2 separate regions of the Homo sapiens genome follow, and region 2 is linked to region 1. A link means that fine-mapping ties the variant in region 1 to the expression of a gene that starts in the linked region. Tissue or cell type: skeletal muscle. Region 1 holds a variant in brackets; the other region holds the start of a gene. All regions are shown on one strand. Distances are from middle to middle.

Region 1 (2,755 bases):
TCTTTCACAGAGGGCTTCGGGGAACTTAGGTTCTAGCGGGGAAGACAGACAAAGCAAGTAAATATGTCCAGAATCTGTCCTGAAGCAGAGAGCTGGGGGCTTGAGGGAGTGGCAGAGGCAACTTCGAAGGACCTGAAGGAGGGAAAGGGTGTGGGAGCTAGATTGCATAAAGGAGGAAAGATCACAGGAGATGGAAGGCTATTGTAAATTTAGCATTGACTCTGAATGCGATAAGAAGCTTTCAAAAAGCTTTGACCGGATGAGGGACACCATCAGACAGGTTTTACCAGAATCCTTTCTGGCTTGTGCAGAATCAACTGGAGAGGGGAGGGTAGATGTGGAGAGACCAGAGAAGAGTCTACTATAATAGTCCAAGCGTGAGATGGTGGTGGCTTGGAACAGGGTAGAAGATGTGGACGTGGTGAGAAATAGTTGGATTCTCGGTATATTTTGGAGGTCAAGCCAACAGGACTGGATGTTGAGGGTTGAGAGAAGTGAAGGAGTCAGGGATAATTCCTTTATTATTTTTATGATTTATTTATTTACTTATTTTTATTTATTTTATTTTATTTATTTATTTATTTTTGAGACGGAGTTTCGCTCTTATTGCCCAGGCTGGAGTGCAATGGCATGACCTCGGCTCACTGCAACCTCTGCCTCCCGGGTTCAAGCGATTATCCTGCCTGGGTAGCTGGGATTACAGGCACCTGCCACCATGCCCGGCTAATTTTTTATATTTTCAGTAGAGACGGGGTTTCACCATGTTGGCCAGGCCGGTTTCAAACTCCTGACCTCAAGTGATCTGCCTGCCTCGGCCTCCCAAAGTGCTAGGATTACAGGCATGAGCCGCCACACCAGGCCTGATTGATTGATTGATTGATTTTGAGACAGGGCCTCCATATGCTACCCAGGCTGGTCTCGAACTCTTGAGCTCAAGTGATCCTCCTTCCAAAGTGTTGGGATTATGGGGTGTGAGCCACCACACCCAGCCTGGGGATAATTCTAATGGTAGTCATCTGCAAGATACAACTGCAAAGATGGAGCTGTGATCTGCTTCTTGATGAAGAGGGAGGTGGGGAGTTCAGTGTGGACCATGTTAAGTGTGAGATGCCTACTAGACAGAAATAATGGAAGGGCCGAGTAGGCAACTATATATGCA[C/T]GAATGGAGTTCAGGGGAGAGGCTGGGGACAGAAATATCAGTGTGAAGGCCACCAGCACACAGGTGGTATTGAAAGCCATGACCTGGATGAGATCACCTGGAAAAGAAGTCAAAGAAGAGAAGAGGTGCTTGGACAAGGAGGTCCTCAGCATTCAGAAGTGGGGGCCAATCACAGCTTCACTCCTTGGCTGGGCACTATGGCTCACGCTTGTAATCCCAGCACTTTGGGAGGCTGATGTGGGAGGATCGTTTGAATCCAAGAGTTGAAGACCAGCATGGGCAACATAGCAAGATAGTATCTCTACAAAAAAAATTTAAAAATTAGCCAGGCATGGTGGCATGTGCCTATAGTCCAAACTACCTTGCAAGTTGAGGTGGGAGGATCGTTTAAGCCTGGGAAGTTGAGGTTGCAGTAAGCCATGATCATGCCATTGCACTCCAGCCAGGGCAACTAGTGAGACCCGGTCTCTAAAAAAAAAACAAAACTTCACTCCACAGATGGGGGATCTGAACGTGATCAATTTAGTCACCAATCTCTGGACCTCCTTTGGTGTGCTGAGAGTGGAGGAGAGCGGAAAGAGAACTGGATTTACGTCCAAAAGACCTGCCCTCTGTCATTTACTGTGGGACCCTAAGCACAGCATTTCACCTCTTGGGAAATGCTGTGGAAACCAAAGGTGGGGGGTTGGGGCCAGAGCCTGGAGACCTTGGAAAGAACTGAGTACTATGCTAAGGGAGGGGGAAGGGAGGGGGCAGGGCAGGTTGCTGCCCCTGTAGCCCTCAGCAGAGGCCTCCTGTAACTCCTCTGGATGTGGCTTTTAGTTCTGGCAGGAGGTGATGAGTGTCTGACCTGGGGATGCTGTTACATGCTAACAGGGGAAGACCAGCATGTTAGAGGTTGTTTTTTTGTTTTGCTTTGTTTTGTTGTTTTGAGACATGGTCTCACTCTATCGCCCAGGCTAGAGTGCAGTGGCATGATCATAGCTCATTGCAGCCTCCACCCCCTGGGCTCAAGAGATCCTCCTGCCTCAGCCTCCCAAGTAGCTGGGACTGCAGGCATCCACCACCATGCTGGTTAATTTTTGTATTTTTTGTAGAGACAGGGTTTCGCCATGTTGCCCAGGCTGGTCTCAAACTATCCGCCTGCCTCAGCCTCTCAAAGTGCCAGGATTACAGGCATGAGCCACTGCGCCTGCCTGTGTTAGAGGTTTAGAATCAGGCAGCCACTTGAATATGGACAGTGACGGAGAAAGAGGGTTCAAAATAAAGTTAGAGTCCTGGATGACTGGAGAGATAGTGGTGCTGTTATCAGAGATGGATTACATGGGAGATAGAGCAGTGGAAGACAAATGATAATACTTAGGACACAAAGAGTTCAGAGAGGGATTAAAGTGTAGGGAGTGTCCATGGAATTTTGGTACATGGCCACTTCTTGTCCTTAAATAGCCTCCAAACCCACAGAAACATTATCTTTCCATATCACCCTAAAGACTGTGCAGCAGTGATGAGTAAAATGACTCTGACCTCAATTAAATCAAAATTCTAGGAATACACCAGCTCCTTTGGAGTTTCTTACTAACGCTCCTTTCTCTGTCT
Region 2 (2,500 bases), 900 kb before region 1:
GGGACAATAGTGGAAAGTCAAAGTGTGTGGGAGGGGAGATATAGAGCCCCATGCCCCCCTCCCACACACTTCAGAGGGGAAAAGGGGGCAGGATTGAGTCCTGTACATTCCCCACGTTTTTTTTTTCTCTGGAGATTGGAAGCCATTGGAGGGTCTAAGCAGAGGAGTGATGAGTTAAGCTGCTGTGTGGAAGTCCGTAAGGAACAGGGGTGAGTCAGAGACCCTGAATGGAGCCGTTGCAATTATCCAGATGAGATAGAGTGCCTTGGATCAGGAAGGGAGGTAGCAACAGAAGCGGCCAATAAAGTTCAAAGTCCTCAGCCCCAGTCCTCCCGATGGGGGTCTCACCTACCCCTCTCACCTCACCTTGTTCCTCCCTGCATCCCCACCCCACCGGTCACTGCTAGGCACATAGAAGCATCTACTAAGCATGTGGTGAATCAATGAACCCCTTAATGAATGGTCCACCCCTAGATCATCAGCATCCTTTTTAACGCTAGGCATATAGTCTGAACTCAACACATGTTTACAGATGGAATGCTGCACAGTCCTGCCAAGTCCAGGCGGTTATTCCTCTCCACAGCCGAAGGAAACTAAGGCTCGGGTGGGGAAGTGTCCCCCTGGGGTCTCTCCGCTTAGGCTGCAGGCTGGGCATCCTTTTTCAAACTCTTTTAGCACAGCGAAGTCGAGGGCACTGGGTGGAGGGTGCTTGCTTGCCCTCAGGGTGAGTCACAGTGACCTCAGAGGAGTTTCCCCAAAACGTCCCCGCCCTGTGATGGGGAAAAGCCGGAATCTCTCGGTCCCAGGTGGTCATGTGGCCCAGGCCGGACAAGCGTCCCGAAAGCCCCGGGAGAGACTAAGAAGCAATCCTCCCACGCGCTTTCTCCCACCCTCGGGCCACTGAGACGGAGGGACAGAGGGCCGCCCTCGCGCGGCCGAGGCCCCGCCTCCCGCTCGCCCGCCCGCGCCTCCAGCGGAAGCCGGAAGCAAAAGCGGGTCCTGCTAGCCCCGCGGCTCCGAACTCGGTGGTCCTGGAAGCTCCGCAGGATGGGGGAGAAGATGGCGGAAGAGGAGTGAGTGGGCTTTTTCCCGGGCGGCGGAGGCGGCGGGGCTGGGCCCCGGCGGGTGACAGCGAGCGCCTCAGGCCGCCCTCCGGCCCCGGAAGGCGGAGCTTCTTTTGCTGGTTGGCCAGGACTGACCAAGCCGGTGCCTACGAGGAGGGCGGGATGGGCGGGCCTGGGCCCAGGTGGGCCTTGCTTTCCCCTGGAGATCGGTCCCTCGAGCTGGGAATCTACTGCCCAGCGCAGGCCCGGAGAGCTGTCTTGCGGAAAATACAAACCATATTTACTTTCCCAGTTTTCGGTAATCTCATGGTTACTGAGCCCTCTTCCGCCTCCTCCAGGAAGTCGTCCGGGTTCTCCACACCCACCTCCTACGTAGCCAGTCGCCTCCTGTATAACGATCAGTTTTCATGTCTTTCTCCTTCACTAAGTTTCATTTAGTCATTAACTGTTAGCCATCTACTCAATTCCAGGCCCTGGGCAGGTGGTAGGAAAGGAGGCCGACCAGGAGCCGCTCTCTGGGAGCTTCCATTCTAGTGGGAAAAGAAGACCATAATTAGTCAAGGTGGTTTCAGATCGTGATTAATTAACGTTATTTGTGCCTAGTGTTCCATTATTGGAACGCTAAGCATGTGGGAGTTATTTATATCCTACTGCTCAAGGTCATCGCCAAGGTCTGATTTTTCTCACGTCTGCAGTTCTAAAAATTGCAACCTCTGGCATGAATGGGTTAAGTGTTCTGAAGGAAGCAAAATAGAGTTAAGGTTGGGGAGTCCACTCAGGAAAAAGTGACATTCAGCAGAAACTTGAATGACCAGAATGAGGGATAGGAGAAATAACATCAGGTTCAAAAGGCCTGGCTCAAGAAAGAGTTTAGTGCTTTTGAGTGACAGGCAGCATGGCTGGTGTGTAGAGAGGAAGGGGGTTAGCTGGACAAGGGGAGATGGGGAAGGACGGGCTGTGTCCTCCAGGTACTTTTGGGCAAGTCCAAAAGTCATCTCCATACCTGCAGGGCAGAGTCTGTTGCAGATTGTAGATGCCCTATCACTGTTTGTGGAATGAGTATGTGAAGATGAATAAGGAACCCCTTCATTGATACTGGAGTCCTTCACCTGATAACTTTTCAAATATATTTCTTGGCCATGTGGGGGTCATTTCATGTAATCAGTTATTTATTGAGCAGCTGCTCCATCCCAGACACTAAACAGCCTCAGCAGCACAAAATAAAAGAGGCAATATAGCCCAGCGATTTCAAGTTTGGGTTTTCAGCTTGATTCTGCCACTAACTGAGATGTTGGTGAAGTTTTGCAACCTCCCTGAGCCTTAGTTATGCATGAGTAAAAAACGGAAAGTAATCATACCCAATCAGACATGTTATACCTATTAAATGAGAGGTAGTGTGTTACCTAGTTCCTGGAATAAAGCAGTGCTCAGAAAAT

Evidence for each region. PIP is the estimated chance that this variant, and not a neighbour inherited with it, causes the effect.
Region 2: SLC9A8 starts here. The variant in region 1 is fine-mapped to the expression of SLC9A8 in skeletal muscle (FUSION, PIP 0.95).

The regions. Positions count from the first base shown.
Region 1 is chr20:50,711,084-50,713,838 of GRCh38, forward strand. No RefSeq gene overlaps it. Among named protein-coding and RNA genes, the nearest start is that of PARD6B, 19 kb to the right of the region's middle. RefSeq lists a cis regulatory region at 113-301. The variant C/T (reference allele first, on the strand shown) is at 1,160.
Region 2 is chr20:49,811,876-49,814,375 of GRCh38, forward strand. It overlaps SLC9A8 (solute carrier family 9 member A8), which reads left to right and starts at 953. Exons shown (of 16, transcript NM_015266.3): 1 at 953-1,073. The coding sequence starts at 1,048. RefSeq lists an enhancer at 632-771 and a silencer at 922-1,201.